Linked DNA regions of Homo sapiens: all the other regions are linked to region 1. The links come from fine-mapping of genetic effects on gene expression. A gene starts in region 1. Each other region holds a variant in brackets. All regions are shown on one strand. Distances are between the middles of the regions.

Region 1 (8,186 bases):
ACTCTGTAGGACTAAAGCAAATAAACAAGAGAATCCATTCCTATAATTTTGAGAAAGTGGGCTGCAAGGGATTTGAGTATGTGTTTGTTCAGGAGATGGTAAAAGGAGGTAAAGGAAAGGAAGGTGCCAGAAAAACCAGCAGGAGCAACCCCGTGAATAGCTTATCTAGATGGAAATTTTCAACAGCGAGTTGAAAATATGCCTCAAGGGAGAATAGATACAGATGTGGAAGCATTGGTGCTAGAGTCCTAAGGATCCCTGGGATTCTCAAGATAAACAGTACTATCTGCTCTTTTTAAGTTTCTCCTCAAAAATTTATTTCATTCTTAGTGGAACATTTTTCTTTAGGAAGTAGGAGGAGATAACACAGCAAAGTAAGGGTCAGAGATGGAACAGTCAGAGAGGTCGAAAGAGCTCCCAGGTGGTATGGTATCAGAGAAGTTAAAGGAAAAGAGAGGTTTAGAGAGTGAGAGTACGAGAGATTAACCTCCTCAAACACTGCAGAGAAGTTCAATGGCATGAACACTAAGCAAAGACCTTCCCCACTAATTCTGTCATATACTATTAAGACACCTGGCATAGCACTTATTATGTAATATTTTGCTTATTATTCTTCGCCATTAGGTAGGGACTACTTGATATTGTTAATTTTTTTATTTTCATTATGCTTCACTAGTAAATGAGTGACTGAATGGATGAACACATGAATGAAAATGTTAATTGTGATGGAAATAGTAGTTTCAGCAGAGAAGTGGGTGTGGAAGCCCAATTCCAATGCCTAAAATAAACAAATAATGGTAAGAAAAGTCAAGGAGATATGCTGAGATATATAGTTTTCTTTTTTAAGGAAAAACCAAACAACCCCAAAACTCAAGTTCTTATAATGTTTGGCTTTAATTGTGATGATTAAAAAAAAAAAAAGAACTGCCATCGTATCAGGAAATGTTTTTTCAGACAGCTAGTTTAGAGGAGAAAGTTCTGCTAAGACATTTCTGTTTGAGACAGTTGACCCAGTGGGACTTTTGGAAAGATTTAGATTATAAGAAAAGCCTCTGACAAATATCTATGAAAGCAAGATTAAAACAATAATGTACACAATCAACTGAGGTCCAGCGGTTTGTAAACCAGTGCCAGTCGGGATGCTCAGAGCTGGGAACGGTGATCTTCAGGCAGCCAGGTGAGACTAATCTGGAGAAGCTTTAGGAAGGAGATAAATTTAAGCTGTTTTGAAAGGGGACTATTCTAGTCAATTGGCAAAGAGTCTTAAAGCACAGGATTAGGAATTTTAATTTGATTACTCGAGGTAATTTGGAGCTACCCCACTGTTGTGAAGATTTGGTATAAATGTTGTTTGGAAGATGATTCATTTCCATAGTTCTTAACTCTGGCTGCGTATTAGAGTTATCTGGAGAGCTCTGAAAAAATCCTGGCACCCAGGCTGTGCTCCAGAGCAATTAAGTCTGGGATGGCATCAAAGCATCAGTGCTTTGTTTTGTTTCTTAAAGTTCTCTGGGTGATTTCAATAAAGAGCCAAAAATTAAGAAGCACTGCTCTGAGTATAGGATAAATTGCAAGGAAGCAAGAGAGAGGCTAGAATTAGAAAGGTTAGCAAGGAGGCTGGAAATTGGAATCTGACCTAGCTTTGTGAGCAGAGATAAAAGGAGTGAAGCTAAATAAAGTATTCTGAAGGAAAACTTGGTTGGACTTTGTGATGCATGCCAGTTGCATTTTTAAATAAAGCTATCCTCCAGGAGTGTCACTGCTTTTACTATGATGGATTAGTTGAAAAACAAGTACACAGGATTTGCTTTTGCTAAAATTCGGGGCTATTAGCAAAATTCTCAATTTCTGTAGGAGCAAAGCAGGTCAGAAGAGAAAAGAAAATGTAATCACATTAAAAGTGTATGTTGTTTACATTTGAAGGAGGAAACAAAATTGAGTGATGGATGCTCCTGAATTAAGAATCAAAATTCAAATTTTAAATTGAATTACCGTTGGGAGATACTGGGCTGTGGTAAAATTATGATCCCTTTAGAGTAACCTTGAAGGAAATGAAAAGTCAGACTATTAAGGACACTGAAGAGAAAGATCCACCATCATTCTCAATCATATCATTCCCCTTTCTTGGAATGAAGAATTTGTAACCGGTATGGGAAATGGATGGTGGTGTCTCAGTATGATGACCTCTCAGAAAGCTGAGTTGGGAACCAATGATGGGAGTTCCAATGTTTAACTGAGAACACTTTAAATTTATCCTGGCATGTCCCACCTTTAAAGTTTAGAGGAAGGGCAGAATGTTATAAAATGGGAATATCATTTATAAAAGGAAATAGTGTTTCCTTTTATAACTGTATATGAGTATTTGATACAATACTCATCTGACACTGAGAGAGGAACTTCACCGGCAAGAGCTTTCTGAAGGGGAGCAATCAAAGACAGTTATTGGAGCAAAATCATTTTTCTGACTCTAAGAATGAAGCTGAGTCTTACGGCAGTGATAAGCCTCCATCTGATAGCTGCTGTCATTACTTAGAGCACAGACTTGGAACTGCAAATGAAAGATAATTGTTCCTGTATTCCTGCTCCCAAATGCTGGGTCTCTGGTAGATGCAGAGATAAAGCAGTTGGCCAGGAGTGGTGCCAGCTTTAAGTCAGGTAGGTCTGCATGTAATTTGAGGGGCAGAGCCTACCCCAAACCCTCCCTCCCTAAAACTTCCTCAGTTAACATCATTCTACTTGCAGGGAGCAGGGGTAGAGTAGGTTAGGACATTGTTTCCAGAAGACCCTTGAGGAAATAAAAGTGCACTATTAAGGATCACTAACATATCTGGAAATGACATTCATACCCTACCTCCCACCCCAACCCCAGAGAAGCTCAGGGCAAGTAACTAAGTGGCTGGGTCCAAGGGGATGTGTTAAGGTTAAGAGTCAGAAGGGAAAAGAGTTCACAAGCCTGGGTAGGGTACAGCAGGGAGGACCCATGGGTGTCCTGTGAGAAGCAAGTGGGCCTGGGGCAGCAAGAAGGACCTGAAAGGTCTTGCTGACACCCCGAGAAGACAAACCCCATCCTTCCGCTTTGTCTCTGCCTTGGGCTCCGAGCCCACTCCACTTCATTTCATCCAGCCATCCTGACTACAGGGGGCCCAAAGCTACTCTGTGCCCTGGGCACGTTTGAGTCTCCTTAAATGCTTCCAATTACCTTTGCCTGGGTTTGTGGTTCCAGGAAAGAAGGTTCTAAATTAACACTGTACAAGGCCCCCCTGCATGTTGGTTTGCAAAATTAATGATCCTAATGGAAAAGTAAATTAATCTTTGATGCTTGGTTGAGGATAAACACAAAAATCACTGTTTTGGACACTGGACCTTCTTAATACATCTCATCAATAGTATTTTCTCTCTCCCTTCCATGCCTGCCACATTCACAAAGAGAGGAGACAATACAACTTATAACTTCATCTCTGAATCCAAAGGGCCATGATGCACGCATTTATTCTGCAAACACTTATTAATGGTCTGGTTTGTGCAAGGTGCCCAAGAGAAGCCAGGAAAGGCTGCACAGAGGAGGCCACCTCATAACACTCCTCACACGTAAAGTTTGACTTGCACTTTCTACGTTCATGGTTTGAAAAGATTGCAGTAAGCATTTTGTAAAATGTAAATTACATTCTTCAATTTTAGGAAGAACACAATAGTTTTTCCAAAAGCCGCCTGTCACAGGTCTGAGGGTTCACAGAGCTCTTTTAAGGGGATCGGAAGTTCTCTGGCTGCCTTGCTATGTTTTTCTAGCCAGAAGTCTCTGCTGCAGTGCATTGCTCAGTTCCTTTCAACTGAAAAATTAAATCTGCACTTCTGTCAAAATGTGTCATCTACACATCCGGACACTCATCACAGTTCACCAAGCTCTACGCAGAGTCCAGGCTGAAAGGATGGCATGCCCTCCCCAACCCCACCCTTTTGAGGTCTGGGAAGCCCAGGTGCTGGGGAGGAGCTGAACAACTGTGTCCAGGGAGTGTCTGGCAAAGCCGACCCAGGGAGTTCCACGGGAGCCTCGGTGCTATGAAAAGAGCCAGTGTCCATGCATTTCCTCGGGTGTGAATCACACTGCCCGGTCGGGCCTTTGGGAAAAAATTAATGAAGGACACAGTCAGCGCCGTAGAACCTGCCAAATACACATCAGATCCAGTGGAGTCTGTGAAGGGGGAGGGGGAGATTTTTCCAGAGGCTTTTCTTCTCGTTCCATTTCTCTTTTGTGCCCCACGACTGGGTTCTTGAATGTAAAACTCTCAGAAAGGTCAGGGCGGAGCCTGTTTTATGCCCCGAGGAGTATCTTGCCCACCCGTAAATGCTGACAGACAGCTGCGACTTCGGCCCAGGAGACCCGGCGGGGACTGGGTCCGACCAGCCCTCTCTCGCGGGCGCAGGTCCGGGACCCCTGAAGCGAGCCGGCCGGGCGCAGAGCGCAGTCAGTCTGGGCGCTCAGAAGCTGGGAGGGGGCTCCACCTGGGCGCCCAGCCGCGGCGGGAGGGGCGGGGCCCGGCTTTCCGGAGGCGGTGGCACCTCCTCGCGCCCGAGCGCGCGCTCCCCGACGTCCGGCGCACGCGCGAGGCCGGCTGGGAGCGCGCCCAAGCGGCGGCGGCGGCGGCGGCTGGAGGAGGAGGAGGAGGAGGAGGAGGAGGAGGAGGGCGGCTGAGGCGCGGCTGGCTGCGCGCGCGGAGGCAGCGGCGGGGGCGACCGGAGCTGGGGCAGAGTGGGGAGCGAGGGAGGGGGAGGAGAGAGAGGGAGGCGGAGGGCAGTGAGAGACGCATTTCCAGTTCTCAACTACGAGCCACGAGTTTGCAGATGGGGCTGCTCGGCGGCGCCTGTGGCTGAGGGAGAGCAGCGGCGGCGGGGAGCGACCGGGAGCGGCGGCAGCGGCGGCGCGGAGGCGGCTGAGGTGCGAGCCGGTGAGTTAACTGGACCCCCACGCCGCTCGGGTAACGGTCGCGCCGCGCGCCGGGCCGGCCGGGGGCGCCCTGTTGCTCGGCGCGGCGCGCCACGCGGGGACCCTGGCCCGCCCCGCCCCCCTCGGCACCTGGGCTTCGGCGGGCGCGGGGAAGAGGGACCGGCAGGCGGCGGCGGCGGCGCCGCGGTCGGGGAGGCTGCTGGCCGCCCCCAGCCCGGCCCGCGCGGAAGGGGCGCTCGGCCGGGCTCCTGCCTCTCTGGCTGCGGGCGGCTGGGCGGGCCGGAGCTCGGCAACGTGTCTGGCCCATGCTGCTTGCCGCCGCTCCCCACGCGCTCCCCGGCGCGGCCCCGACTGGGGCTAGGGCCGCAGACGCGCGGGGCCCCTTCGGGCGCGGGGCTTGGGTGCCTACACCTCTGCGGCGGGAGTCGCGGTGGAGCCTGAATGGAGAGCCGGCCTGGGGGCGGCGTTGCTGTGACTGACACCTCCGGGGTCTGTCCCGAGAGGGGGTGATTCCGCCGGCTCCCGGTTCTCTCCCGAGCTCGGAGTTGGTAGGGGAGGAGGCTTTCTCCAACTACCGCCGCTACTTCCGAGGTACGAGACTCCAGTTGTTTGGCCAAAGTGGCTGTGGGCCGAGCACAGGCTGCCGCGGGGGCGTTCGCTGCTGAGATCGTGCTCGCGGATTCTCGGTACGTTTGTCTGAAACCAAATAGGTGCTGGGGCTTTTTTATTTTGGCTGGGTGGAGGGTCAGCAGGGGAGTCGATTGAGGTATCCGACCGTGTGGTGACAGGATGTGGATTGGTTGGTAGATGTTTTTTTGCAGAAGGACTTTTTAACACTTTACTGGGAGTTTATTCTCAATCCTACCAGTTTCTGGGATTGCAGCTCGAGATTACATTTGTTAAACTTCCATCAGTTGGGTGTGCATCTGTGTAGGGGGTGGGGGTGAAGCGAGGGAGAGAATTGAAGACTGCCGGGGAAGCTCAGAAAATTCTCCGCATTACTTATAAACAGCCGGGTAAGGTCAGGCTAGCCACGTTTTATTCTTTCCTACGCCTTTGGAGAGTGTTGGAATTTTACTTTGTGCTTCAAGTATATTACAAGTGGTCTTGTAGTGTAGCTGAGAACGTTTGGGGTGCGTTAAAATGCGTTTCAATTGGAGTATGATTTAGCAGCCATTTCTTCCCGTGAAATTTTGCAAATCATTTGTAAACTTATGTTGGTCGAATATACCAGGCGAAGTAACATTTTTAGTAATGCGGTATATAGTTTCCGTATATAGGTATAGCAACGGACCTCAAGTAATATTGCTTATTGTAGGCATCTACTGTGCAATGATAGGGTAGTGGGTAGTAGGCCTGATTATAGTTATGTCTTCTGAGGCCTTGTTAACAGTAAACAAAGAACTTTTGTGGGTTGTGTCATTTTGAGGTCATTTGTACCTTAAATCTATCATATATTTAAATAGGTGTTTAAATGCGTGTTTGCACGATGTGTTACTCTTTAAGGTCCATGTTTCCTTCATTCTGGACTACGGTTACATAATACACAAATGGTAACACTTTTAATTGCTCAATTTTGTCCTATGGAGACTGCACACCATCTTTATGAAAGAGGTGTGTATGTGTCCTTACTGATGCCACCGAATTCTTGACATCTGGAATGTCAAAATGAATTATTTTGCATTCTAGGTTAAATCAACACTGGAAAAATTAAGGTGTTTAAGCAAGTCTAGTAGCTCTATATAAGACAGAATCTTTTTTTTTCTTTAGGCCAACTGTTGGATTTTTAAAAATGAATCATATTTTTAAACATTTGAGGGAGCAGTTTGCTTCTGAGTCTCATTTTAGGCTGAAATTGTTCCAGAGCACTACATAGCCTGCTTCTCTCTTTCTCTCCCCACTCCCCCTCTTTTTAGCTTGAGATAACCAAGAAGACATAACTGTGACTCTATGTGTTATCTTTTTAAAAAGTTGTTTTAAAATTGAAGTTGCTTGTTTGAATATTTACTATCCCTTTACATGCTTTACTACTTAATAATGGATTAGCAGAATAAAACAGATATTTTAATTAAATGTCTTTCATATTTTTGACATCTGAGCTTTGTAAAAATGGAGTAGCATCATATTATTGCTGAGAGAGTTACAAATAATACAGGATTAGTGCTAGTCAAAGGCTAATTGTAAAAAAACAGCCAGAAAATAAAATTAAAAGAGGTAAGAGGACGCATTTATACTTTTGACATCACTCTAATATAAATTACCTATTGCTAGGTGACTTTTGAAAAAGAGTATCTTGTAAAATTCACATTAGGTATATAATAGTTAATAATTTTTCCTTCCAGAGTGATTCACTTGATGAGTGACTAGATTTTTTTTTTTTAAATCAGAACTCTACTTCAGGTAAGTATAGTTAACCATGTAAGTGATGTGCTGATGTTTATTTCAGGAAGAATGAACACTTACCCATTTGATAAATACTGAACTGTTTGGGAATATGTCAGTTATTCCTTAAAACTTAGGCGGAGAAAAATTATGCTAGTTTTGTTTTAACTGTAGGTTCTTTAGAAAAGTAGTCTTCACATTTATAAATATAAGAGCAGATAAGCACAAGAGATCTCTTTCCTGATATGGTGCTAGTATTGAATTAAAGATTTTATTTTTTTGTTGTAGGGACCAGTTTTGTTTAGTCTTCCTGTTCAGTCTCACAGAAGCTGCAATGATTTTCCTCCTTTTCTGTTACTTGTATCTGACCACTGGGGGGAGACTTTACAATTGGGCTTGACCATATTCCTTCTTTACATACATTGGCTGCTAATCCTGGGCACTTTGTCAAACTGCTGGGTAGTGTGCTGAGGAGGATGCACTCTGAAGCAAGTCTCAATCAAGGTGTTTAATGACTTTTCTTTCTTTAACTCACAGCATGCTTACAAAGTATCATTCTTTATAGACTGTGTTATTAACAGTCTACTGTTAAGTGGTCTAAGTATGCCTCTAACATAATGAAAGATAAGATTCCTGAATACATTATAGCTTTCAAAGATCCGACTTTACTTGCATTAATCTTAGAAGCAGTGTAGGTTTAATTGCTTGCTTAGAGTACACAGATATTAGTTGTCTGGAAGGATCTGGAAAGATCATCACTCTTCTGTGAAGTGTATCTATATCCAAACCCTTTAAACAAATTGGTCTCCTCTTATAAAAAGCTTTTGGAGGAGAAGATATTGAAGCATCCCATGTAGCTAAT
Region 2 (8,186 bases), 34 kb before region 1:
TCAGGAGCAGATTGTTTAATTTTCATGTAACTGTATGGTTTTGAGAGATCTTCCTGGTATTGATTTCTATTTTTATTATGCTGTGGTCCAAGAGTGTGGTTGGTATGATTTTGGTTTTTTTGAATTGTTGAAAATTGCCTTAAGGCTGAGTGTATGGTCAATTTTAGAGTATATGCCAGGTGCAGATGAGAAGAATGTACAGTCTGTTGTTGGGTGGAGTGTGCTGAAGATATCTGCTAGGTCTATCTGGTCAAGTGTTGGGATTAAGTCCCAAATATCTTTGTTAGTTTTCTGCCTTGATGATCTGTCTAATACTGTGAGTGGGATGTTGAAGTCTCCCTCTATTATTTCGTGGTTATCTAAGTCTCTCCACCGGTCTCTAAGAACTTGTTTTATGAACCTGGGTGCTCCAGTGTTGGGTGCATATATATTTAGGATGGTTAAGACTTCTAATTGAATTGAACCTTTTATCATTATGTAATGCCCTTCTTTGTCCTTTTTGATTGATGTTGGTTTAAACTCTGTTTTGTCTGATATAAGAATAGCAACCCCTGCTCTTTGTTGTTTTCCATTTGCTTGTCTATGATTTGTATTGTATTCAAGATGTATTAAGAAAAAGCAGTTTGCAAAATACAAAACATTTCTGTGGGAAATTAAAGTGTGATACCATTAGAGGAGAAAGATAGATGGATGGTTATACAGATTGATAGATGATTAGCTAGCTACCTAGAAGATTAGATAGATAGATAGATAGATAGATAGATAGATAGATAGATAGACAGACAGATAGATAGATAGATATAGATAGATGGATGATAGGAGAGAGAGAGTCAGATAGATAGATATGAATATGCATAGCAAATATCTGGAAAAATTTGGTGTTCTACTGTGACATTTCACTTATCATTATGTAATATTATATTTTTCACTATAAACTCATTTGCACTCATCCCATGCTTCCTGTGCTCAGGCCGATAGTCCCCAAAATACCAAGCCCCTTTAGGAACTCTGACACTTGTATTTTTTTCTCCCTTCCTCTTCCTCCTTCATCTCACAAACTCCTTTTTTTCTAGGAAAGTTTCCAGTTCAGTGATACTTCCTCAGTGATGCTGCCTTCAGGGCTCATGTTCTGTTTTCATTATCTGTTAGCACTTTCCACGTGTTATTGTCAGATTGATAGATAGGTATGTAGATTTTTTTTTTTAACACGCATACTTTCCTCACTAAAAGGTAAGCTTCTCCAAATGGGAAAATCATGACTTGAAGTCTTTGTAGGTCAGAATCTAAAGCCATGCCAGGTACCTAATGAATACCTCCTAAATGTTTGCTATTGAAAAAATAAGTGACCTTTTTAAATATGAAAGTCTAACCTCCTAGAATTAAGGAATTAGCATCACACCTAATCTATTTATAAATCTGGAGTTTCTTTTTAAATAAATGCCCATTGAAAACAAAAACCTGCAGGGCAGGAAGATATTGAGGCCCTGTATGATTAAAATAAGGTTGCAAGCTAAATGGATGCTTTGAAATGTGAATACCTTGAGTAGATGATCAGTCTTAGTCATGACTTTAAAGAATTATTCTGCATTAAACCTTAAAAATCATTTTCCATTTCAACTAATTTTCCAACTTTTCTTTATATGAGGAAAAGATACAAATGACTGGATTTTATTGGCATTTTTCAGTTCTAATTATATATCTTATTTTAAAAAGAAGCAAATGATCACAGCGTTGGTTAAAGGTCATATATTCTGTGATCTTTTTTTAATATTAGGACTTCTATTCTTGTCTTGTTCTTTTACTGTAGTTCAGATATGAAAAAAGGGTAAGTAAGGAAAGAAGCAAAATCTGATTGACAGCAAACGCTAATGGTAACCAACTCTTCCCAAAGAGACTACAGTGGAGTGTGAATAATGATATAAATCATAATAGAAAGCAAAAATCAGTTTGTTTCCACATATAGCATGTGCTGCATGATTTTATGAATGCAGGAGGCATATGGATGATTGATGGATATCGTGTTGTATGGATAAAAGTGGTGTGTCTCAGAGTCACTTCTGCTTTTAGTGAATGACAATGGAGCTTTTGTAATACTAATAATGTTGAAACCTGGTGAATGCAATGATACAGATAAATGACAATATATTCCTAAAATTTCCATGGACAGTTGTGAGTTCAAATATTTTATTCTATTGTCCCATGAATCTATTTTTATGCCATATGCCCCAAGATTTCTTTCTAAAAACATTTACTACTGGAATTGCAGTCTGTTAGGAAGAATATTGTTTTGTTTGGGAAGATAAGATTAGATCTGTCTATTAAGTCTTCAAAATAAGCTGTAAATGAATTTTTCTGTAATAAAGACTTACTTCCATCGACAAAATGGGCCATCTACAAATGATTGTTGCTCCTTATCAAGATGGATAGATAAAGAGATATAGATAGATATGTGCTCGCTTCGGCAGCACATATAGTAAAATTGGAACTATACAGAAAAGATTAGCATGGCCCCTGCACAAGGATGACACACAGATTTGTGAAGCATTGCATATTTTTCAAAACAGCATGGTACTGGTACCAAAACAGAGATATAGACCAATGGAACAGAACAGAGGCCCTCAGAAATAATACCACACATCTACAACCATCTGATCTTTGACAAACCTGACAAAAACAAGAAATGGGGAAAGGATTCCCTATTTAATAAATGGTGCTGGGAAAACTGGCTAGTCATATGTAGAAAGCTGAAACTGGATCCCTTCCTTATACCTTTTACAAAAATTAATTCAAGATGGATTAAAGACTTAAATGTTAGACCTAAAACCATAAAAACCCTAGAAGAAACCTAGGCAATACCATTCAGGACACAGGCATGGGCAAGGACTTCATGACTAAAACACCAAAAGCAATGGCAACAAAAGCCAAAGTTGACAAATGAGATCTAATTAAACTAAAGAGCTTCTGCACAGCAAAAGAAACTACCATCAGAGTGAACAGGCAACCTACAGAATGGGAGAAAATTTTTACAATCTACTCATCTGACAAAGGGCTAATATCCAGAATCTACAAAGAACTTAAACAAATTTACAAGAAAAAATCAAACAATCCCATCAAGAAGTGGGCAAAGGATATGAACAGACATTTCTCAAAAGAAGACATTTATGCAGCCAGCAGACACATGAAAAAATGCTCATTATCACTGGCCATCAGAGAAATGCAAATCAAAACCACAATGAGATCCCATCTCACACCAGTTAGAATGGTGATCATTAAAAAGTCAGGAAACAACAGGTGCTGGAAAGGATGTGGAGAAATAGGAACACTTTTACACTGTTGGTGGGACTGTAAACTAGTTCAACCATTGTGGAAGACAGTGTGGTGTTTCCTCAAGGATCTAGAACTAGAAATACCACTTGACCCAGCCATCCCATTACTGGGTATATACCCAAAGGATTATAAATCATGCTGCTATAAAGACACATGTACATGTATGTTTATTGTGGCACTATCCACAATAGCAAAGACTTGGAACCAGCCCAAATGTCCATCAATGATAGACTGGATTAAGAAAATGTGGCACATAAACACCATGGAATACTATGCAGCCATAAAAAATGATGAGTTCATGTCCTTTGTAGGGACATGGATGAAGCTGGAAACCATCATTCTGAGCAAACTATCACAAGGACAGCAAACCAAACACCACATGTTCTCACTCATAGGTGGGAATTGAACAATGAGAACACTTGGACACAGGGTGGGGAACATCGCACACCACGACCTGTCGTGGGGTGGGGGTAGGGGGTAGGGATGGGGGTAGCTAGGGATAGCATTAGGAGATATACCTAATGTAAATGACGAGTTAATGGGTGCAGCAAACCAACATGGCACATGTATACATATGTAACAAACCTGCACGTTGTGCACATGTACCCTAGAACTTCAAGTATAATAAAAAAATTTTTTTAAAAGATATGGATAGATAGATAGGTAGAAACATATAAAGATCTCAGTACTTAGTACCAGTCCTTACACAAAATAGAATGCCAATAAATACTTGTTGAGCTAATTAAAGACTGGAATTAAGAAAAAATGTATTTAGGCCACTCAGAGAAATTAGTCATCTCTTTTTCTAATACTAACCTAATTTTACATTT[G/A]CCTAGGGTTGGTCATTCTTGGGAATGTTGTCACACATTCTCTAGGACTTAGCACTGGGGTCCTGTTCAACTTCTTTAGAAGTCAACAGAGAAGCCCCAGAATTTTCAGCATACCAACACCCACAAACTCTGCCATCCACTGCCCACCCTACTCACTGAGCCTCAGAAAATTTATTTGGTACTCCATTTGTTTGCTTTTGTGACATTTGTCCTAGAAACTTAAAAAGTATCTTTGTTCATGTTTTTATTGAATTTCAAATTTCAAATGTTTGGAATGAGGAAAAATATCACTGAAAAACAAACTCTCTATGCTTTGTCCCTGAATGATCCAGTGATTAAATAGGATCAGTTGAATATGGCATTTTACTTGTCATTTCTAATAAAGAAGTTGTAAGCTTCATCTGAGTTTTCAAAATTAAGAAAATTTTGAAGTGAAAACATGTAATTGAACTTCTTTTTAAAAAATATTTCTGTTATGACATGCATATTTGAAAAGTTTTTCACAAAACAGCCCCGGGGATCTCTTTAAATATCTGATTACTGCGCTCCACACTTAAAACTTTCAATGGTTTCCCACTGACCCTACAACAAGATCTGAACTTCTCACCCCAGCCTTTAAGGCCTTGCCTGTCCCATCCACATCTAATTCACCAGTCTTATCTCATACCCTTTCTCCTCAATCCTCACACTCAGCTGCATGAGCTTCTTTCTGCTAGATTTCCCTCTGCTGGGACCTTCTCCCATGCTCTTCCCCAGCCTGCCATACTCTTCTCTATAGGCACTGCCATCTTGACCACACCTGTAACCACCTTCACACCTTTACCTGGGTTTCAGCATAAAATTTACCTCCTCACATTAATGCTTTGGTTTCCACAGGTTAGCAGTTCCCACAGCATCTAACATTTTTCCTTCACAATTATTTCTATAATGTCTGTCGTCCACGCTGAGTTGGATATTCTCTGATAACCTTGGCACTAGTGTATCTTTAGCTCAAGCACCATATGGTACATAACAATGAGTGACATGATATTGTTGAATATGAAATATTAGAAATTACCAGGGTTCAAATGTAATACATTCATTTTTAATCTAGATCTAAATGATGGACAAACGCTAAATGTTTTCTACTGCCCAAAATTCCATGCCTAGAGTGATACTGGACTGGAAACGGCTGAAGGCCTTCAGCTGTGAAGAAAACAAGCCAGAATAAAATTCTTCTTTTTCAAATATTTTATCCATTGTCCTCCTGCTGAGAACCATGGCTTTTTAGGTGGTTTTTTTTTTTAGGTTTATTATGAGTTTAGGCACCTTAAATATTTCAACATTTTAGGGACGAAAGAGAGAAGCAGGGAAGTAAGACACCTCAAAGAGAATGTTGAATCTGACTCACTTTTAACTGGAGACCTTTAGCTGAGGTCTGTTGGGGAACACTAGCCACTGGTCTCTGTCGGAGATAGCTTGACTCATAGCTCCTACAGAGACGCATGAAGCTACCCATCAACATGCGAACTCCTAGGGTAGAAAGAGTCAGGAACTTTTGGTCTTTATATCCAAGTGCCTGCACAGCAAGCACGCTGGAAATGTTTGGGGTACATTTTTACTATATTTACTGTATATCAGTTTTTTCAATATAAAAAGTATGTATATACATGTGTATATACTTTATGTAAGTAGTAAAGCATATATAGCATACACATATATTTATGTAAGTATGCGTACCTTATATAACTAGTAGCTTTGAAATATAATTCACATACAATTCATTCATTTAATGTGTTCAATTCAAAGGTTATTAGCATATTAACAGAGTTGTGCAACCCTAACCACAATCACTTTTTTTTTTTTTTTTTTTTTTTTTTGAGACAGAGTCTCACTCTGTTGCCCAGGCTGGAGAGCAGTGGCACGATCTCTGCTCACTGCAGCCTCAACCTCCTGGGCTCAAGTGATCCTCATAACTCAGCCCCCTAAGTGGCTGGGACTACAGGTGTGTACCATCATACCCGGCTAATTTTTGTATTTTTTTGTAGAGACAGCGTTTTGCCATGTTGCCCAGGCTGGTCTCAAACTTCTGGGCTGAAGCCAACCACCTGTCTCAGCCTCCCAAAGTGCTAGGATTACAAAGACGAGCCTTCGCGCCCAGCCACAATCAATTTTAGAACATTTTCATCACCCTATAAAGAAATTCCGTACAGATTACTGGTCACTTTCCATTAACCTCCAATCCCCCAGTGCTAGCCAATTATTAATCGACTTTCTGTCTCTATAGATTTGTCTTTTCTGGACATTTTGTATCAATGGAATAATATAATATGTGGGGTGGAGTTTTTTTGGCGACTGGCTTCTTTTTTTATCTTAATATTTCAAGATTTATCCATGTGGTAGCATCTCTCAGTACTTTTTTTTATAACAAAATAATGCTACATTATGTTTATCTATTCATCAGTTTACAGATGTTTAGATTGTCCCACTCGTTAGCTATTATGAATAATGTTGCTATGAACATTCATATACAACTTCTTGTGTGGATATATTCCTTAATGTCTTGGATATATACCTAGGAGTAGAACTGCTGAATGATACAGTGATTCTATGCTTAATCATTCCTAACAGCAGTGAATCAGGGTTCCAAATTTTCTGGATCCTCAGCACCACTTGTTACTTCCTATGTAATCATCCTAGACAATGTGAAGTGGTATATCATTGTGATTTTGGTTACTTTTTTTCCTGATGGCTAATGATATTGGGCATCCTTTGATGTGCCTACTGAACATTTATATATCTTCTTTGGAGAAATGTCTATTAAGATTCATTGCTTTTTTTTAAGTAGGGTAATCTTTCTACTACTGACATGTATGTATTCTGGATACAAGTTCCTTATCAGCTATATCATTTACAAGTATTTTCACTCATTCTTTTCCCTTTCTTGGTGGTATTCTTTGAAATGCAAAAGTTTTTGTTTTTGGTTTTGGTTTTTTTGAGACAGGGTCTCACTCTGTCATCCAGGCTGGAGTACAGTGGTACAAGCACGGCTCACTACAGCCCCAAACTCCCAGGCTTAAGTGATCCTCCCACCACAGCCTCTCAAGTAGTTGGAACTATGGACACACATCACCATGCCTGGCTAATTTTTTATTTTTATTTTTGTAGAGATGAATTTTTGTCTCACTATGCTGCCCAAGTTGGTCTCAAACTCCTGGGCTCAAGTGATCCTTGCACTGGGATTACAGGTGTGACCCACCATGTCTGATTAAGTTTTTTAAATTTGAAGAAGTCCAGCTTATCTACTTTTTCTTTTGTCACTTGTGCTTTTAGCAGTATCATATCTAAGAAAACTTTGCCTGACCCAACGTCACAAAGTTTTACCCCTAGATTTTATTCTAAGAGTTTTATAGTTTTACCTTTGAATTTACTTATTTGACCCATTTGAGTTAATTTTTGTGTATGGTGTAAGGAAGGGGTACAATTTTATTATTTTATATGTGGATATTCAGTTTTTCCAGTATCCTTTGTTGAAAAGTTTGTTTTTCTCATTGAGTTGTCTTGGCATTTTGTTGAAAATGAACTGTCCATAAATGTGAGATTTATTTCTGGTCTCTCAATTCTAGTCTATTGGTCTATGTCTTTCCTTATGCCAGTACCAAAGTGTCTTGATTACTGTAGCTTTATAGCATGTTTTGAAATCAGGAATTATGAGTCTTTCTATTTTATTCTCCTCTTTCAAGATTGTTTTGGCTATTTTGAGTCCCTTGCATTTGCGTGTGAATTTTAGGATCAGCTTGTCAATTTCTGCAAGAAGTTTCTCCAGGATTTTAAGAGGAGTTATATTTAATCTGTAGATCAGTTAGGGAATATTTCTATCTTAACAACATTAAGTCTTCTGGTCTGTGAACACGAAATGCCTTTCTATTTATTTAGACCTTCTTTAATTGCTTTCAACAATGTTTTATAGTTTTCAAGATGTAAGTTGTATACTTCTTTTATTAAGTTTATTTCTAAGTATTTTATTCTTTTTGATGCTGTTGTAAAGGG
Region 3 (8,186 bases), 100 kb before region 1:
CCCCTCAGCCTTCATATAATGAGCATGAGATAAGTGTCTTTTATTCTAATCTGGAGTTGTTAGTGCAGCAAAACCTAACCAATACAGATGAGCTTAAAGAAGAGCATATTCATTTCTACCTGAGGAGACAGTGCAGCCAAAAAGATTTTGAGAAGCTAATGATGCTGGTAGGGTTGGTATGGAGGTTGCATGGGTATCGTAGTAACCTGAAGCTGCAATAACAAAATACCATTGACTAGGGTGGCTTAAACCACAGAAATTTACTTCTCTCGCAGTTCTGGAGGCTGGGAAGTGATTTGGGTGCCAGGTGATTCAGTTCCTAGTGAGAGCTCTCTTTCTGGGTTGCAGACAGCCGCCTTCTTGTGTTCTTACATGGCAGAGAGAGAGAAGGCTCTCTCCTGTTTCTTCTTATAAAGGTATTAATCGCATTCATGAGGGCTCCATCCTCATGACCTAATTACCTCCCAAAGGCTCCATCTCCAAGTACCATCATACTGGGGGCTGAGATGTCAACTTATGAATGCTGGGGGGAAACCCAACTCTGTCCATAGCAGCAGGTTTTGAAGTAAGGTACAGAGATTGAGGCATCTGAATTGATCATTGTTTTAGCCTACTTTGTGCTGCTATAACAGAATACCACAGACTAGGTAATTTATAGCGAATACAAATTCATTTGACTGAAAGTTCTGGGAAGTCAAAGATTGAGGGGCCACATCTGGTGAAGGCCTTCTTGCTCTGTCATAACATAGAGAAAGGCATCACATGGGTGAGAGAGCAAGGCAGGGCAAGACAGTGTTGAATTTGCTTTTATAACAAACCCACTCCTGCCGTAACAACTCAAATCCATTTATGAGGGCAGAGCTCTTATGACCTAAACAGCTCCCAATAGGCCCCACATGACATTGTTGTATTGAGAATTAACTTTCCAAGACATGATCTTTGGGGAACACATTCAATCCACAGAAGTTATGAAGGGCCTAGTACAGCAAACTAAGGAATTTTATCATATCTTTAACACGTGACCTTTAACATCATTTTAAAAAATGGAGCAAAAGGGGCCTAATTTGCATTTCAAAAAGTTATTTAATCATAGTGTGGTTGTGTGGAGGATTCACACAGATATAAGGCCAGTACCAAAGATATTAGATGATTACAATAGTCCAGGTGAGATCCTTGAAGCTTTGCAGCCAGGCTGGCCACGTGACGTGATTCAGCAGCCCTGATTAGCACCAGAGAGGGTAAGGGGGTGATGTGAGGCATGATAAGGAGTACAATTTCAAGGACTAGAATGCTGATAAGATACAGGAAGTGAGATAAAGAGAGGAACAAAGAATCACTCCCAGATTTCTGCCTCAGATAACAGGATCGATGGCAGTGCCACTAACAAATATAAGAGAATAACAGGAAGGGGCAAAGGAAAATAAGTCATTTAGTCTTGAATATTCTGTGCTGAGGTTCCTTTGGGACACTGAGGTCCACGTGCCAACAAAGAGGTTCGAATTGGAAATTCTGCTGTGGAGTGAAGGGGATCATCCTAGGAATGTGCAGGTAAAGGGAACTAACAGGCCCTGAGAGCAACTAATAGCTGAAGCAATGAGAAGCTGAGGAAGAGAAGCCCACAGAGGAGACAGAGATGAAATGATCAGGGAAGTAGGAGAAAAGTGAAGAGATGGTAGTGTCACGGAAAAGAGTGCGAGTACTTATGTACTGAATCTTCTCTCCACTGAAACCCAAGGTGAAAAAGGGATGCCTCCAAACTGAGATGTAAAGTAGCCCCCAAAGAGAAGGGAACCCTTCACCAGCCATAGCTACTAAAAGCCACAGAGAGAAGGTGACCCATTGCCATGACAGGAAAACGCTCCCTTGGCAATCACAAGTAAAAATGAAGTGGACAACACAATGCAATAGGAAGAGCAAGCGCCCACTGCCATGACCAAAGAACCTCTGGCTCTGTTGTGGCCATATTTGTATTTAAAATGCAGTTTGGAAGTGGGGGTTTCTACATGCTAGTGACTTCCGTTTTGCACAGCACTATATGGGAAACTTGGGACTGCTGAGTAATGACTAGGAGTTGGGGTGCCATTGATTCTCAGTGTGTCAGAGGGAGCAAGCCAGCCTGAAGTCGACATCCATCAGTTCAGTTATTTAAAAAATGGATTGTAACCAAAGGGAGATTCAGTTGATTGCCACTTGCAAAACCGAATAACAAGGATGAATTGTGATAGAAAGTCAGTGACTTTATTTTTCCATAGCTAGCAGTGAAGAAACTGTCCAGTCTCCTGTCTTAACGAAACCGTATCAAATTTTCAAGCAAAATGCAAAGGAGTTAAAAAGAGGAGTTTGGGGTGAAGGGCATGCAAGACGGGCAAGGCTGTGCAGGTCTACATGACTTGTTCTGATGACTTAAGTTACTGCTCCATCTGGTGAATAGGCTGGTGCCATCTTGGGCTCAACCAGGTTATAAATTAACTGTGTCCTTGAAGCAACCTCCTGGTAGGGGAGAATTCCGTAGGCACCTGGATTGTCTCAAGATTCAGTCTTTGGAACTTCTAAGCAAACATAGAATTAGATAAGCTACCAGTGCAAGGGAGGGCCTGGTGGAAAGGAGAGTAAAGGTTATTATTTCATTACTAAGAAATTAACACAAAGGGCAACAGAAAGAAAGCTTAAAAACAGGGTACCTGGTTACAATATGACCTTGGCCAAGTTTGTTCATTCATGTGTCTATTTGTTAATAGTTTATCAGTGCTTACTTTGTGCCAGATGCTATGCCAACAGTTGGAGATACAGTAGTGAACAAGATTGATAAGTCTGCCCTCGTGGAATACTGATTTCTGGAAGGAGATGCAGGCATTAATCATGTAAATAAATAAAAAGATAATATCTACCTGTGATAGTAACATTAAGGAAGTAAACAGGCAGATGAGATAAACTGATGGCCCTCAAACTCAAGCGGCACGTATTGGAGTCATAGCAGTAGGGCTCCTTGAAACAGACTGCTGGACTCCATCCTCAGAGTTTCCGTGGGTCTGGGGTATGGCCTGAAAGTGTGCATATTTCACAAATTCTCAGGTAATGGGGATACTGCTGGTCCAGGGATCAAACCTTGAGAACCAAAGAGATAGAGAGTAACTACAGGAGGTTTTTAAAATAATAATAAATAACACTTATGTAGGCTTTATGGCATTTCAGGTGCTAGTTTAAATGACTATGTTAACCCATTTAATCCTTTTTTTTTTTTTTTTGAGGCAGAGTTTCACTCTTGTTGCCCAGGCTGGAGTGCAATGGCGTGACCTCGGCTCACGGCAACCTCTGCCTCCCGGTTTCAAGTGATTTTCCTGCCTTAGCCTCTTGAGTAGCTAGGATTACAGGCATGCACCACCAGGCCCAGCTAATTTGTGTATTTCTAGTAGAGACGGGATTTCTCCATGTTGGTCAGACTGGTCTCGAACTCCCAAACTCAGGTGATCCGCCCACCTCAGCCTCCCAAAGTGCTGGGATTACAGGCATGAGCCACCACGCCTGGCCCCCCTTTAATTCTTACAGCAATTTTGTGAAGGAGAAACTAACAGGGTGCCCATTTTAGAGA[T/C]GGGAACACAGACACAGAGCTGGTGTTAAGTCTGATGGCCTAGGCCTTTAGGCTATTGGATGGAGGTATTGCAATTCAGCCCCCAGGCAGTGGGCTGCAGGGCTTAGTTGCTCTCCTTTCCCATGATTTGCAAGTAAAGGCTGGCTTCTCTGAGCAGGCGGTGTTTGAGTTGAGACCTGCAGGCTCTGAATGAGAAACCATGTAAAGAGCTGGGGAGAGAGCATTCCCAAGCAGAGGAAACAGCAAATGCAAAGAACCAGGAGTAGAAGAGAGCTCAATGTCATTAAAGTAAAGCGACAATGTGGCTGGAGTTAGAAACGTGGTACAATAAGAGGTTGCGGTGTTAGGCAGAGGATAGGATCAGTGGACACCTGTGGGCCACATTTTGTTTGCATTTTATTTTAAAAGCAACTGGAAGTAAAAAAAAATAATGTTTTAAATTAAATGTTTCATTTTAAGAGATAAATGTAAATTCCCATGCGGTTGTCAGAAATAATACAGAGAGAATGGGTGTTCTCTTTACCCAGTTTCCCCCCAGTGGCTGCATCTTGTAAATCCATAGTGATATCACAAAGAAGATATTATCATTGATAGAGTCAAGATTCAGAACATTTCCATCACCACAAGGACTCCCCATCTTATCCTTTGATAGCCACTTTCACTTTCCAGTCACCTTCTTCCCTTCCTCCATCCTTAACTTCTGTTAACCACACATCTGTAATAGACTTTTATAATTTTGTCATTTCAAGAATGTTATATAAATTGAATTGTATAGTATAACCTTTTGGGATTTACTTTTTTCACTAAGTAATTCACTGGAGAGTCCATTGTCCACTTTGTTGTATATGTCAGTAGTTCATTCCTTTTTATTGATGAGTAATATTCCATGGTGGGATGGACCACAGTTTAACCATTCACCTGTCGAAGGACAACTGGGTTATTTCCAATTTAGGGCTATTACAAACAAAGCTTCTATAAACATGCATGTATAGGTTTTGCATGCATTATTTCTCTGGAATAAATGCACAGGAGTACAATTGATGGGTCATAAGGTAGTTGCATGTTTAGTTTTTCAAGAAACTGCCAAACTGTTTTCCAGAGTGGCTATGCCATTTTACATTCCCACCAGCAATGTATGAGTGATTCCATTTCTCTGCATCCTCACCAAAATGTGGTGTTGCTACTATTTTTGATTTTACCCATTCTGACCCATATGTGGTAATATCTCGTTATAGTTTTAATTTACATTTCCCAATGGCTAATGATGGTGAACATCTTTTCATGTGCTTATTAGCCATCTGTTTATGTTCTTCAGAGAAATGTCTCTTCATTTCTTTTGCCCATGTTCTAATTGGATTGTTCAATTTTTTATTCTTGAGTTTTGAAAGTATTTTGTAAATGCTACATTCTAATCCTTTGTCAGATATGTGGTTTACGAATACGACCCCCTACTCTGTAGCTCATCTTTTCAACTCTTCACAGGGTTTTTTGCAAAGCAAAACTTTTTAGTCTTGATAAAATACAGTTTATCAATTTTTCCTTTCATGAATTGTACATTTGGTGTCAAGTCTAAGACTCTTAGTCCAGCTCAAGGTCCTAAAGATTTTCTCCCATTTTAAAAAACGTGATAAGTTTATGTTTTACATTTAAGTCTGTGATTAATTTTGAGTTAATGTTTATATAATGGGTGAGGTTTATGGTGAGGCTTCATTTTTTTGTTTGTGAATGTCCAACTGCTTCAGCATCATTTCTTGGAAAACTTATCGTTCCTCTGATGAACTGTTTTGCACCTTTGTCAAAAATCAGTTGGGCATATTTGTATGAGTCTATTGCTGGGTTTTCTGTTGTGTTCTATTGATCTATATGTCTATCCCTTCACCAGTACCTCATAGTCTTGATTACGTAATAGGTCAAAACTGGGTAGATTGTTTCCTCTTCCTTAACTTTTTTGAAATATTTTAGCTATACTACTTCCTTATTTTATATAAATTGTATAACAATCTTGACTATATCCACAAAAAAATCCTATTGGAATTTTAGTAGAAATTGTGTTAAACCTGTATATCAATTTGGGGAGCATTGACATCTGTAATATGTTGAGTCTTCCAATCCATGAACACTGTATATCTCTTCATTTTTTTAAATTTCTTTCATCAGTGTTTTGTAGTTTTCATCATACCAGTACTATTCATGTTTTTATAGATTTACATCTAAGTATTTCGTTTTTGTTCTTGAATAATTATAAATAATGTTAGTATTTTTATTTCAGTCTTCAGGGTTTCATTGATAATATATGAAATACAATCAATTTTTGGATGTTTATCTTGTATTTTGCTGAACTTACTCATTAGCCCTAAGAATTTTTTTTTTTTTTTTGGTGAATTCTTGGGGATTTTCTAAGTGGGTTATTATGTCATCTTCAAATAGGGATAGTTTTATTTGTTTCTTTCCAAACTGTATGTCTTTTATTTTTTTTTCTTGCCTTATTGTACCAGTTAGGACATCCAGCACTATGCTGAATAAGACTAGTAAGAGTAAACAGTCTTGCTTAAGTCCTGATAAAACGGAGAAAACATTCAGTCTTTCACTATTGAATTTAACATTGGCTATAGATTTTTTTGTAGGTGCTCTTTACAATGTTGACAAAGTTCTCCCTATTCCATTTTCTGAGAGTTTTTTTATCATGAATTATTGAATTTTGTCAAATGTTTTTTCTACCATGATTGATATGATCATGAAATTTTACTTCTTTAGCCTGATAATATGGTGGCTTCCATTGGCTTATTATCAAATATTAAATCAACTTTGTTTCCTGTAATAAGCCTCACATTGTCATGGTATATAATTTATTTTATACGTTGCTGAATTCTATTTGCTAATAGTTTATTAAGGATTCTTGTGTCTATACTCATAAGGAATATTGGTCTGTAATTTTCCTTTTTTGTGCTGTTTTTGTCGAGTTTTGATATCAGGGCAATACTAGCTTTTAAAAAAATGAATAGAGAAGTTTTTCTTTCTTTCTATTTTCTGAAAGAGATTGTGTAGAACTGGTTGTTAACTCTTCTTTAAACATATGGTAGAATTCTCTGATGAAACCATCTGGGCCTGAAGATGTTCTGGGGAATTTTTAAATTACAAATTTGATTTCCTTAGTAGTTATAAAACTATTCAATCTACTTCATGTTGGGTAAGTTGTGGTCGTTTTTGGTTTTCCAGGAATTGGTTTATTTTGTCTACATTTTCAGGTATATGTGTGTAGAGTTACTCATAGTATTCCTTTATTATTCTTTTGACATGTTCAGGGTCAATAAAGATAGCCTGTTTCCTGCCTAATGTTGGTAATTTGTGTCTTTTCTTTTTGTCTTTGTCAGTTTTGCAAGATGTTTCTCAATTTTATTGATCTTTTCAAAGAGCCAGTTCTCTGTTTCACTGATTTTTTACTATTTTCTGTTTTCAATTTTATTGATTTGTATTCTAATCTTCTCATTTTATTCCTTCTGCTTGTTTTTGGCTTATTTTGCAATTTTTTTTAGGTTCTTGAGATAGGAGCTTAGATTATGGATTTAAGAGTTTTCCTTTTTTTAATGTACACATTTAGTGTTACAAATTTCCCTCTCATTGCTGCATTAGCTGTGTCCCACAAATTTTGATACATTGTAATTTGACTTACATTTAGTTAGTTTTCTTTATTTCCCTTGAGACTTCCTGTTTGACCCATAGATTATTTAGAAGTGTATTGTTAATTTCTATGTGTTTAGAGATTTTCCTCCTGTAAGTGTATTGTTAATTTCTATGTGTTTAGAGATTTTCCTCCTATCTTTTTTATAGATTTCTATTTTTATTTCAATGTAGTTGAAAAACACACTGTATCCTTTTCGTTCTTTTAAATTCATTAAGGTTTGTTTTACGGCCCAAGATACAGTCTATTTCACATATATTCTATGGACACTGCTATTATTGGGTGAAGCGTTCCATAAATGTTGATTCCATCCTGGTGCTCAGCAGTGTTGAGTTTTCCATGTCCTTGCTGATTTCTGTCTGGGTATTCTGCTAATGGTTGAGAAAGGAGTATCAAAGTTTTCAACCATGACTGTGGGTTTGTCTGTTCCTCCTTTCAGTCCTATCAATTTTTGCTTCACATATTTTGCAGTTTTTGCTTCACATATTTTGCAGCTCCACCTATTGAAGGAAATAGTGTCAAAGTATTATGGGCAAGTTTTTTTTTTTTTAACTTTTATTTTAGGCTTGTGGGTGGACATGTGTTAAAACCACATGATATAAAGCAAATCCCTTCACTTATACCAAAGGACATCACTCTAACAAGTGTCCCCTTTCTCCTACATCATCCATTTTTACATCTCTACTTGATCATTCTCATCATTTAACAAACTTGTCATTTTCCCAGCTTTTAAAAGAAACTCCCCCAGATACACTCAAATATTTTTCTCGCCTTTGCAGTAAAACTCTTCAAAGGAACTGCCATTAGTGTCTTCCCACTCTCTCTTAAACCCATTCCAATCAGGCTTTCATTACAATTGGTGAAAACTCTTCTTGTCAGGTCACCAATGACCCAATGCTGCTAAACCCAATGATCAAT

Alleles and levels. Alleles are on the strand shown, and positions count from the first base shown. SD is a standard deviation of normalised expression in the study named. Not every link is listed here.
For the expression in skeletal muscle of the gene that starts at base 4,802 in region 1, allele C in region 3 goes with a higher level than allele T (small effect, 0.29 SD a copy in GTEx).

What was found. PIP is the estimated chance that this variant, and not a neighbour inherited with it, causes the effect.
Region 2: its variant is fine-mapped to the expression of PALS2 in tibial nerve (GTEx, PIP above 0.99).
Region 3: its variant is fine-mapped to the expression of PALS2 in skeletal muscle (GTEx, PIP 0.97).

The regions. Positions count from the first base shown.
Region 1 is chr7:24,568,651-24,576,836 of GRCh38, forward strand. PALS2 (protein associated with LIN7 2, MAGUK p55 family member) reads left to right here and starts at 4,802. Exons shown (of 12, transcript NM_001303037.2): 1 at 4,802-4,943. RefSeq lists enhancers at 3,951-4,020, 4,041-4,140, 5,006-5,505, 5,451-5,500, 5,551-5,670 and 1 more and a silencer at 4,281-5,350.
Region 2 is chr7:24,534,883-24,543,068 of GRCh38, forward strand. It overlaps the pseudogene RNU6-1103P. Among named protein-coding and RNA genes, the nearest start is that of PALS2, 34 kb to the right of the region's middle. The variant G/A (reference allele first, on the strand shown) is at 4,158.
Region 3 is chr7:24,463,822-24,472,007 of GRCh38, forward strand. It overlaps LOC124901601 (a long non-coding RNA gene), which reads right to left. Exons shown (of 2, transcript XR_007060259.1): 2 at 7,462-7,768. Among named protein-coding and RNA genes, the nearest start is that of PALS2, 110 kb to the right of the region's middle. The variant T/C (reference allele first, on the strand shown) is at 3,590.